Linked DNA regions of Homo sapiens: region 2 is linked to region 1. Evidence: fine-mapped expression QTL. Tissue or cell type: sun-exposed skin. Region 1 holds a variant in brackets; the other region holds the start of a gene. All regions are shown on one strand. Distances are from middle to middle.

Region 1 (5,393 bases):
TGGCGTGCTGGGAAAAATCAAGGTAGAGTCTGCCTTTCACACCCCCACAGGTGACGTCAGAAGGCATGGAGGCCCAGACACAAAGCTCCGTCACTCTACAGTGCAGTTTGGAGAATACACAAGACCCGGTTTAGCATCTTGGTCGGGAGGCACAAGCTCAGAACAAAAATCTGACAAGGAAACATGTGTTCACCAAACCTGTCATGAAAATGGAAAAAATGACCAGCATGAGACAAGGAAAGAATATGTATGTCGGCATGGGATCCTCAGAACTTAGAGAGAGAATATGTATATGGGATCCTCAGAACTTAGAGAGAGAATATGTATATGGGATCCTCAGAACTTACAGAGAGTATATGTATATGGGATCCTCAGAACTTACAGAGAACCCTGCAAATCAATGGGAAAGGAATGATGCCTGCACTAGGAGAGGAGCGCGTGACGACCGTTCCTGGAAAACGAGCCAAAAACGGCCAGAACAGGAACGCAAAGCCCCCAACAGGCTCAGCAATGTGGCCATGTCAGCCAAGCCACCGCCGTCAGAGCCCCGCCGCAGACTTGAGGGAGTTCTGCTGGGAACACCAAGAAGCCGGAATCATTCACAGAAATGCGGAGAAGCCGAACTAGAGAACACCGGGGGGCAGACACCACGGCTGGAACACAGAGACTTGGCAACATGCGTGGATTTGTGCAGGCGTGCGTGCGTGTGTGCGTACTCTGCATGCATGTGCACGTGCCTGGGTACGCACAGAAGGAGAGAGAAATTTCCTTCCGTTCCTTCCTTCCTTCCCAGCCATTTTCACTGTCAAGACAGCTAAACACAGGGCCTTGTGTTTTACCAAAGCATTTGGCCCACGGGGATGGAAGTAACAGAACAAGTTCACCCCCACGCTGGTGGCTGCCATGAGCAGGGCTGAGTCTGCCTCAGGAAACAGCTTCCTTCGAAAAGCCTTCTGCTGGGCAGGCATGGAAGCTCTTGCCTGTAATCCCAGCACTTTGGGAGGCCAAGGCGGGCAGACTGCCTGAGCCCAGGAGTTTGAGACCAGCCTGGGAAACATGGCAAGACCTCATCTCTACAAAAAAATTTTAAAAATTAGCTGAGTGCGGTGGTGCACACCTGTGTTCACAGCTCCTCGGGTGGCTGAGGCAAGAGGATCACTTGGGCCCAGGAGGTTGAGGCTGCAGTGAGCTGTGATCAAGCCCCTGCACTCCAGCCGGGGTGACAAAGCGAGACCCTTTCTCAAAAAAACACCACCACAAATCCCCCTGTGCCTCAGCCCAGGGCAGCTCCGGCCTCAGGCAGAGAGGGATGAGGACCCAGCAGTCTCACGGGGGCCCAGGGGCAACTGGTTCCCCAACACGGGCCAGCACTGCCCAGAGTTTGCCTCCAGCTAAGCCCTGACTTCCGAGCACACGGCCTGACCCTGCCTGGAGTTCGCCTCCAGCTGAGCTGTGCATCCCACATCCTCTTCCTGGGGCCACTGGCCCCACTCTGCCCCCAGGGTCACCTGTGACTCAGGGCTGCAGGCCCAACCCAGCACCAGCCCTATGGGCACCGCCCACACCTGCAGGGGCTCAGGAGCCAACGCGGGTGAGCACTGTGTGCAGTCCCTCATCCTCCAGGCACCCGAGGGCTGGCAGAAGCTGAGTCATCCACCAGCGGCTACTTAGAGCAGCAGCCAAAGGAAATTCCAAACCGATGGAGTGTGCAGGATTCGGTTCCAGAGTGTGGAGTCTTCTCCTTAAGTGGGGGCCTGGGAGGCCACGTTCCAGGATCCGGTTCCAGAGTGTGGAGACTTCTCCTTAAGTGGGAGGCTGGGAGGCCGCGTTCCAGGATCCGGTTCCAGAGTGTGGAGTCTTCTCCATAGCTGGGGGCCTGGGAGGCCGCGTTCCAGGATTCGGTTCCAGAGTGTGGAGTCTTCTCCATAGCTGGGGGCCTGGGAGGCCGCGTTCCAGGATTCGGTTCCAGAGTGTGGAGTCTTCTCCATAGCTGGAAGCCTTGGAAGCCGCATTCCAGGATTCAGTTCGAGTGTAGGAACCTCAGAAGCCACATTCTAGGATTCAGTTCCATAGTGTGGAGGAGACTTCTCCATAAGTGGGAGCCTGGGAAGCTGTATTCCAGGGAGGGACAGGCCCGGGCCAGCTCACACCTGCCCTCCAGGCCCTGGGCTGCAGGGCTACCTCGCCTGGCCATGTGCTGGAGGTGCTTTGCAGTGACCCATCAGGGACATGGAAGCAGGTCCGCCTGATAGGTGCACGGCCTCCTGCTTGAAGAGCCAACCACACTCCATGCGGGACAGCACAGCAGCCCTTGGCAGGCAGGAGCCACAGACAGAGGGGTCTGGGCCTGGGATGCCCACCGTGCCTTTGGGGAGGAGTTGGGAGGACAAGGCAGTGCTGTCCTT[C/T]CAGCCCCAGCTACCGCACAGAGAAGACACAGGCTGTGGCGTCACTGGCCACAGAGACGGCCACAGTGGAGGGAGGGCTGAGCCTGGGCCCCACCACCCTGTGCCCACCCCACCTGGTCCCTGCCCAGGTCTCGCCCCCGCTCAGAGCTGCGTCTGTGAAGGAGAAGGCAGTGCCTGCTTGTTCCGGGATCTGCAGCTCCATGCCCAGCAGCATGCACAGGCCAGCCATGCATCCCAGGGTTCTTCTGCGGCCTCCCCCAGCTCAAGCACCCCACAGGCCAGATGGACACTCATGAAGCTGTCATAGCGCTGGGCAGCCCTGCCTAACCCTGCCATGATCTCGTGTGGCCAGCAGGTACAGCGTGGGCAGCACAGAGGAGGCCTCACAGGGCTCCACACAGCCACCTGTGCCTTGGCTTCCCCAGTCAGGGACTTCTGAGTCTGCTTCTAAAAAAGCCACCGAGGCCCCGGAGAGGCAACGTGCCCAGAGCACCCAAAATGGGGCGTGCCCTCCACAAACCGGACAAGCACCTCTACGCCAGGGAAAGCAGGTGCTGCCATAGGCATGGAGCCAGAAGCAGACCTCACATGGGACGGGCATTGCAGGACAGGACGGGGCCAATGAGAAGGGGGCCAGGGTCGCACCCCCAATCATGGGCTCCCAGGGACACCCCTGCCGGGAACCTGCAGGGTCCCCATTTGTCTGTCCCTGGAGAAGCTGTTCAGGAAGCCGCGTGTGTCCAGAGCTCTTCATCTGCGTGCAGCTGGGGCTGCTGGGGCTGCCAGCAGTGGGTCCCCCCTGGCCTGAGGGCCCGGACAGGGCAGGAGCGGCTCCCCGGCCCCCACTGTCCTTTGCGTCCTCCCTCACCAGCATCACCCTGGGCATGTGCCACCAGACCTCGTCCTCCCCCATCCCTGCAGGAGGCCCAGTGTGGGTTTAGGGCACTGGAAAGGAGCCGAGAGTTTGCCAATCAGAAACAGGTGGTGTAGGGGCCTTTCTCCCATCCCCAAGTCTAGAATCAGTTAACTAATACAGCAGGAGAAGGCACCCGCCCGGCTTCCATCAGGGAAGGAGATGCCACAGAGGAGCAGGCCCCACCTGGATAATGTCCGCCAGCTTCTGCAGTCCGGCCGTGTTGGTGAACACTCCAGCACCTGGAGGGCAGCAGGGCGCTGACACCCACACTGCAGGCAGGGGAGGCCCCGACCCCAGCCCCGGCCCTTCCAGCATGAGCCCGCTCAGCCCGACTGCCAAGCTCCATCTCCTGCCCAATGGGGGGCCCAGGGTGGAGCGCAGCATCCATTCAGGGCGGGCAGTTCGCCTGCTCTTCCCAGCAGCCAGGAGAGAAGCCAGGCAGGGACAGAGTCTCCAAGGGGGTCAGTGGGACTTGAAAAGAGGCTCTATGGTCGCCTAAGGGTTGAAGCAGCAAAAGCCACCCTCCCCAGCACCCGGGAGCGCAGCAGAGGAGAGACCCCGCTGGGCCCGGCGTCTCAAACCAGAGCAGCCCATGGGGACACCGCCTCTGGGCAAAGCCTCTGGACCCCACAACTCTGAGAAGCAGAACTCGGGGTGGTGTGGAGAAGCCAGAGGCCCCACAAGCCAGCTAGGGCCTTGGGCTGCTCTTTCTCAAAAGCAGAATAATGGGATGAGGCTGTAGGACGAAGCCGCCAGCTGCAGAACTGGGACAGGCTCTACGGCAGCTGGCAAGTGGCACTAACGCCTCCACGCCCCGATCAGAAGATGAGGTTCTGTGGGCCTGTTCCTGCTGACGGCCAGGTGACGGCCAGGGGAGCCCTGACTGCCAAGATGGAGGCCTGCTGCACCCCCTACGCCACATTTGCCCGCACCAAAGACCCCGTGCCAGCACTCACGTCCTGCCAGGTGCTGGATGATCTGGTCCAGCGAGTCCAGGATGCAGCCCTTGGTCTGAAACGTGATCTGGGCTTCAGCAAACAGCTCAAAGATGTAGCTGCCGAGGAGAAGAAGGCAGGCTCGAGCCTGGCGGGGGGACCAGACTGCAGCTTTGGGAACTGAGGAGAAGAAGGCAGGCTCGGGCCTGAGGGGGGACGACACTGGTCAAAGATGTAGCTGCCGAGAAGAAAACAGGCTCGAGCCTGGAGGGGGAAATCAGGCTGCAGCTTTGGAACTGAAGGCAACAACTGTGGAAGTTTCCTTCCCTCGGAAACAAATTCAGCCCTCCAGGGGACGCCAGCATTGGAGGTGAGAGGCCTCCGCCCTCAGGAGCCTCCAGGTGGGGAGAGGAGGCCTGGCCAGCACGAGAACAGCACCGAGGAAAAGAAGCCGCCTCAGAGCAGGGGCCGCCGTCAGAGGGGAGGGATGGGGTCACTAGGGGGTCGTCAAGAGGTTGTCAGGGGCTTCTGGGAGGCGGTGGCTCTGGGCAGAGTCCCCAAAGCTTTGGAGAGTGACAGTGATGGGGCAGCAGAAGCTACAGGAGGGGACCCTGAGGGTGCAGGGTGGCCGAGGAGCCAGGCCAGAGCCTTGAGCATTACGCTGAGGACAGTGGCTCCACCTGGAAGCAACTGGGATTCCCCCGACCAGGTCGGCGCTCAGGCAGAACACGCTCCACCTCGGCGGCTGTGCGCTCAGGAGAGCCCCCACACAGGCCCCAGCCCTGACTCCTCATCTGCCTGCAGGACAGACAGCAAACCCTGCTGCCCTGGCTGCGGAGAAGACTGGAGCCCCACGGAGCGTTCAGAACGTTCCAGGCCTCCCGGAGTCCAAAAGAGGTGGTGGCTGGGACACTCATCGTCCTAACAAGAAGGTCTCGTTCTAACAGGCACCTGTGCTCAAATGACGGACTGGACCAGGGTCCAGGGAAAGGCCTGGAGGAGGAGAAACTGCAGGAAACCCAGCGGCCCCGCGTGGGAGAGTGTGCTGTTCCGTGGGTGTGTGTGTGCTGTCTGTGGGAGTGTGTGTGCTGTTCCGTGGGAGAGTCTGCTGTTCCGTGGGAGTGTGTGCCGTTCCGT
Region 2 (5,393 bases), 140 kb after region 1:
AGCCCTGTGTGTCTCCTGCCTGGGTCCCCTGGACTCCCTCCCAGGGTGAAGAGCCAAAGGCCCAGTTCTCTCCCTAGTCCCAGCTTGGGTTTGTGGAAATGACCAGTGCTGACTCCCAGGCAGACCGTGGTGTTGACCCCACTGGATGTGTGGTATGTAGGCACGGGGTGGCACCGTCACCTGCCCCTCACAGACACACTGGCGGCCTGTGCACAAACCCACTCACGCACACAGCACTCAGTAAGCCGGGACTGACCCACTCAGACACGCACACAGGCGCACATCACACACAGGCTCAGCCCCCCAAACCCAGACCCAGGAGCTGGAGCGTACGGGTCCACGTGGCTAGAAAATGCAGGTTGGAGCGGCCCCCATGCCGCCCGGACCCCCAGCCCAGGACATCATGGTGCCCAGAGAGCGTGAGCCCCAAGGGCATTGGCAGGAGCTGCCGATTCCATCTCCCTGGGTGGGTTCCAGGTGGCACAGGAAGGGTGGGCCGGGAGGCTTGGTGACCTGGGAGCTGCCCTTGGAGGCTATTTCCAGGGGCCTCAGGGTGGGCCGTGGGGGATTTGGAGTCTTCTGCCTGTGCAGGGTCAGGCAGGGTCGGTTGGGGGCTCGGAGGTAGATGCCATGGTATGCTGGGCAGCAAGTGGCTCAGGAAGCCTCTGGGTGTGAGTCCTCGGGGGTCACCAAGGCAGGAGGGGGCAGGGATGTGCAGGGTCCGCCCTCGTCTCCCCACGTCTGGCTCAGGGAAGCTTCTGCTCAGGTCTTCGTGAAACACGTCAAGAAGCAAGGGGGCCGGTGGGGTCTGTTTGTGGCCCCCGGAGACCCTGCCCCCCACCCTCCTGGGAGCCCAGGTTGGCAGCTGTGCCCAGAAGGCTTTCGGGGACAGAAAGTTTGGAGACAAGTTCAGGCCTGACTGAGTCCTTGTCCCCTAGAGTTGGGGTCAGCTCTGTACCTGCTGAGCCGAAGTGCTGATGGCTGCCGTCCACAGGCCCCGGCCAAAGCCTGGCTCAGGAGGGAGCTAAGAGATGAGACTCCCGTGTGCAGAGACAGGTGGCCCCGGGGAAGGAAGAGGCCACTCGGAGGCTCCGAGAACGGAGGCAGCGCGGGGGCTTCCTGGGGCCCGTGCATCGGAGGAACAAGGCCAAGCGGAGGGAAGCAGCAGGAACCAGGACCCCTGCAGATGGTGGAGGCAAGAGGCTTTATCTGAGCCTTTGGGACCCTGGCCACCTGCCCAGCTCCATCTGCATGGGAGAACCTAGGGGAGGGGCTGGTTCTGGTACCTGGGCCCACTGAGGCCTTGAGCTGAGCTTCCAGTTCTGGCAGGTCCCCAGCACAGCAGCCTGGGGGCTCCTCTGGCACAGAAGGCCTCGCCCTCTGTGCTCTCTGCAGCCGCCACTGGGATTAAGGGGACCAGGTGTGTCTGTGGCACCTGTGCCCTCCTAGGCATCTCGCCAGCCACCAGCTGAACAGGTTTGGTGCTCCTGGGTATCTGGGAGGGGCTGGGGACGTTCCTGCCTCCTGGTGTGGCTTAGACTGAAAGTCCTGCACGTCCGAACTCAGGGATACTCGAGGCTTCCTGGACATAGACTCACGGGCCCAGAGTCTGGCCGGGCTCTGAGGGACGCTGCCCGGCCAGGTGCCCCGGCACCCTCCTTCCGCATTCCCCACCCCCCACCCCTCCCCCTGCATCCTCCCCAACCGACCCCAGACAGAGCTGGGAGGGCCTGAGGGACACTGCCCAGGCCGGCACCCCGCTGCCCCTCCCCACCTTGGTCAGCGCTGAGCTGGGCTGCCCAGAAATCTATGAGCCTGTTAAATAATCCAGATTATTGTTCTTAATCTCAAAACAATGAGTGGAAGGTGCCATTATTTCTCTTTGCAATAAAAATAAAAGTTGAAATACGCAGTTTAGGGACTTTCCTTACCACCCCTTGCAGACTTTGAATTTCCCTTCCCGCCCCTTCCTGCCCCCTTGTGGCTGCCAGTCCAGGTCCCTGGGTTGGAGCTCCCGGGTGGACACAGTAGGGTCAGTGGGAGGGTGGGGCGGGGAGGGGCCTCCAGGGAGGGGGTGTCCCGAGTCTCAGGGGCTGGGGGGCAGGCGGCCGTCGGGTGCAGGTGGGGGTCACGGCAGGGCTCACTCAGGCATGAGTCGGGAGAAGGGAGGCCAGCTGGAAGGGGGCAGGGGTCCTGCGGGCTGGACAGGAGGAGGCAGAGGCTGGAGGCGGGAGGGGCTGCCTGGGAGGGACCTGTGGCCTTGGGCCCCAGCGCCATGGGCGCTTCCAGGCCGCACTCACGGTCCTTGCCTGCCCCCTGGCGTCCGTGTGGAGGAAGGCAGTGCCCGTTTCTTCAGCCGTGGGTGCCCCTGGCTCTGCCTCCCCGGGGATCCCCCAAAACCCTCGGGCCCTCCTCTTCCGGGAAGTCCTCCGGGCCGACCCACACAGCTGTCGCTGCCCTGATTCCACTCCCTCTTCCCTGCTTGGCCCTTACCCGAGGGCGGGCCTGCCCATGAGGCCGCTCTCAGGACGCCTGCCCACAGCAGCTCCTGACATTGGGCCCTGTGCTCAGGGGTGGAGTCTGGGGCTGGGTGAGGGCACCGACGGGTGGAGGGGAAGCTGCCGGAAGCGGGGAGAGAGGCGGCCCCCACCTGTGCCCCCGCAGCTCTGAGGGTTGGGAAGGCAGCGCCTGCAGCCCTCACCTTCCTGCCCTCAGGCTGCGAGGCTTGTTCCCAGAGGGCCGTTGGCTTCCCTGAGTGCCTGAGTGTCCATAAGTTGGACCCCCAAGAAGCCCCAACCGGGAGGTCCTCCTCCCCCTCTCCTGCGCTCAGGCCGGCCCTGGCGGTGCTTGCCCAGTGGGTTCCCATAGTGCGGGCGCTAAGTGCTCAGATGGGCCCCAGTGGGCCTGAGGACTTGTGGGGCCGGCTGGGCCCTCAGGAGGAGCCGGGGTGCTCTGGAGCGCCTGTGGGTGCTGGGTGTGGCTGCTTCCCGGCCTGTCATGAGGAAGTGGGACGGCCCGCCTGCCACGCCCAGCTCTGGGTGCTCCAGCTGGGCCACAGCCTGGTCCTGCCGCTGCGCCCGCCCGCCATGGTGTCCCGGGACCAGGCTCACCTGGGCCCCAAGTATGTGGGCCTCTGGGACTTCAAGTCCCGGACGGACGAGGAGCTGAGCTTCCGCGCGGGGGACGTCTTCCACGTGGCCAGGAAGGAGGAGCAGTGGTGGTGGGCCACGCTGCTGGACGAGGCGGGTGGGGCCGTGGCCCAGGGCTATGTGCCCCACAACTACCTGGCCGAGAGGGAGACGGTGGAGTCGGAACCGTGCGTGTCCTAGGCTGCTGGGAGCTTTGGCACAGGCCACCCTCTAGGCACAGGGGAGGGACAGGGCTCTGGGCTGCTCAGGGAGGCCCAAGAAGGTGGGGACCCCGGTTCCATCTTCCTGCACCCCAAAGTCCAGGCTGGGCATCCCGCTTGATCCTCCCTGCAGGCCCCATGCGCTGGCGCCCAGGAGTGCCCAGGACTGTCCCTGCGGGAGTTGGAGCACGGGGGTCAGAGGGCACGGCCCCTGCCTTGGGCTCATCCTTGTCACAGCTCGGGGGTGGACGCTGCATTGCCGGGACCCAGGGAGGACAGAGGGTCCAGGGTGGACTTCTGGGGCCCGGTGGCCAGTGACAAGGTCTGTCGGAGCGTTCCAGGGCCTTTGGGGGAAACGAAGCTTGAAGCTTGCCCAGTTTCCAAAGTGCCGGAACCAGACACACGACCTAGTTAGGGGAGCGGGCCGGCTGCCGGGCAAACTTCCTGCCTGCTGTGCCCTGCGGGGAACCAGACAGCAGCTGGTGTGGCCTGGCCCTGGCTTCCACAGCTGCCCGGAGCTCAGGCTGAGGAGGGTCACGCTCCTGAGATCCCGCGTTTCTCATCAGTGATTGGGCACCCACTGTGTGTGTGCGTGAGTCACAGGCTGTGTAGGGTTAGCTCCCGGGGGACCCAAGCAACAAGCAGGGGAGGCTGTAAAGAGGCCGTCGGGCAGGGGCCCATGGTGGAGACCCCTCTATTACGTGCAGACCCACGACCTCGTTAGCAGGGTCACGCGCAGACCCACGACCTCGTTAGTGAGCAGGGGTGCAGGGGTGGGGTCTGGCCGGAGGCTGGTCAGCTCCCAGGTGCAAAGACCCTGAGTCCTGAGAACTCGCCCAGGTGAGAAGTGGGGAGGAGGCCAGGTGAGGAGGGGGTGGGAGGCCAGGTGGGGGGGGGAGCGGGAGGCTAGGTGGGGGGGGCTGGAGGCCAGGTGAGGGGGGGCGGGAGGCCAGGTGGGGGGGGCGGGAGACCAGGAGAGGAGGGGACGGGAGGCCAGGAGAGGAGGGGGCGGGAGGCCAGGAGAGGAGGGGGCGGGAGGCCAGGTGAGGAGGGGGCGGGAGGCCAGGTGAGGGGGGGGCGGGAGGCCAGGTGAGGGGGGTGCGGGAGGCCAGGTGAGGACGGGGTGGGAGGCCAGGTGAGGGGGGGGCGGGAGGCCAGGTGAGGAGGGGGCGGGAGGCCAGGTGAGGAGGGGGCGGGAGGCCAGGTGAGGGGGGGGGCGGGAGGCCAGGTGAGGAGGGGGCGGGAGGCCAGGTGAGGAGGGGGCGGGAGGCCAGGTGAGGGGGGGGGCGGGAGGCCAGGTGGTTGGAGGGGCAGGTGGGGCAGTGCTTCCAGGTGTGCGGAAGTGGAGGGGGTGGACCCCAGGGGCTCCATGCTGGGCCGTGGTCTTCTGTGTGGGGTTTGTGTTCCAGTGACCTGAGGGAGTCAGACACACAAAGGGCGCAGGTCACCTGGAGCTTCTGCAAGCTCCACCTGGAAGTCCACAGTCCAGGGCTGGCCCACACCCCGCAGCCGGGAGTTAGTGCGCGCGAGTGGCTGTGTGTGCGTGCGTGTGAGCGTGTGGGCAAGTGAGCACACATGCGCGTGTGTGTTCAGGTGTGCGGGTGAACTGTGCGCATGTGTGGGGGTTTGTGACTGTGTGTGTGTGAGCGTGCGTCACACATGGGTGTGTGCAGGCAGCTCTGGGCAGCCATCCTGCTCAGCTGCCCTCCCCAGCTCCACCCTAGGCTCTGACCCCTAGACTCGGGCCACTCAGGGCAGGGTGTGGTAGCGCCTGCCCCTGCCCCCGCCGGGTCCTCAGGGGCCTGTCCTGGCCTTTCGGGACATTCAGGGCGTCTGGGTCAGCGACAGCTCCTGAGAGCAGCTGTGGTCAGGGCTGGGAGCTTGAGGTGGCAGGCAAGGGCGGCTGGGGTTCCAGGCGGGCAGGCTGGGGCCAGCGTGGGGTCCACGTGGGGTGGGCCCAGGTCCGCGTGTTCTCAGACTCCTCCCCTGCAGGTGGTTCTTTGGCTGCATCTCCCGCTCGGAAGCTGTGCGTCGGCTGCAGGCC

Direction of the effects. Positions count from the first base shown, and alleles are read on the strand shown. Sizes are in standard deviations (SD) of each study's normalised expression.
With allele C in place of T in region 1, the expression in sun-exposed skin of the gene that starts at base 3,025 in region 2 is higher (moderate effect, 0.46 SD a copy in GTEx).

What was found. PIP is the estimated chance that this variant, and not a neighbour inherited with it, causes the effect.
Region 2: PTK6 starts here. The variant in region 1 is fine-mapped to the expression of PTK6 in sun-exposed skin (GTEx, PIP 0.95).

What each region holds. Positions count from the first base shown.
Region 1 is chr20:63,678,831-63,684,223 of GRCh38, reverse strand. RTEL1 (regulator of telomere elongation helicase 1) reads right to left here. Exons shown (of 35, transcript NM_001283009.2): 13 at 4,278-4,375; 14 at 3,505-3,560. It overlaps RTEL1-TNFRSF6B (RTEL1-TNFRSF6B readthrough (NMD candidate)), which reads right to left. Exons shown (of 38, transcript NR_037882.1): 13 at 4,278-4,375; 14 at 3,505-3,560. Among named protein-coding and RNA genes, the nearest start is that of TNFRSF6B, 15 kb to the left of the region's middle. RefSeq lists enhancers at 61-785, 1,512-2,236. The variant C/T (reference allele first, on the strand shown) is at 2,406.
Region 2 is chr20:63,535,008-63,540,400 of GRCh38, reverse strand. It overlaps PTK6 (protein tyrosine kinase 6), which reads left to right and starts at 3,025. Exons shown (of 8, transcript NM_005975.4): 1 at 3,025-3,316; 2 at 5,342-5,393. The coding sequence starts at 3,087. SRMS (src-related kinase lacking C-terminal regulatory tyrosine and N-terminal myristylation sites) reads left to right here. Exons shown (of 8, transcript NM_080823.4): 8 at 1-1,912. RefSeq lists a cis regulatory region at 333, enhancers at 249-418, 2,837-2,926 and silencers at 1,967-2,236, 2,567-2,716.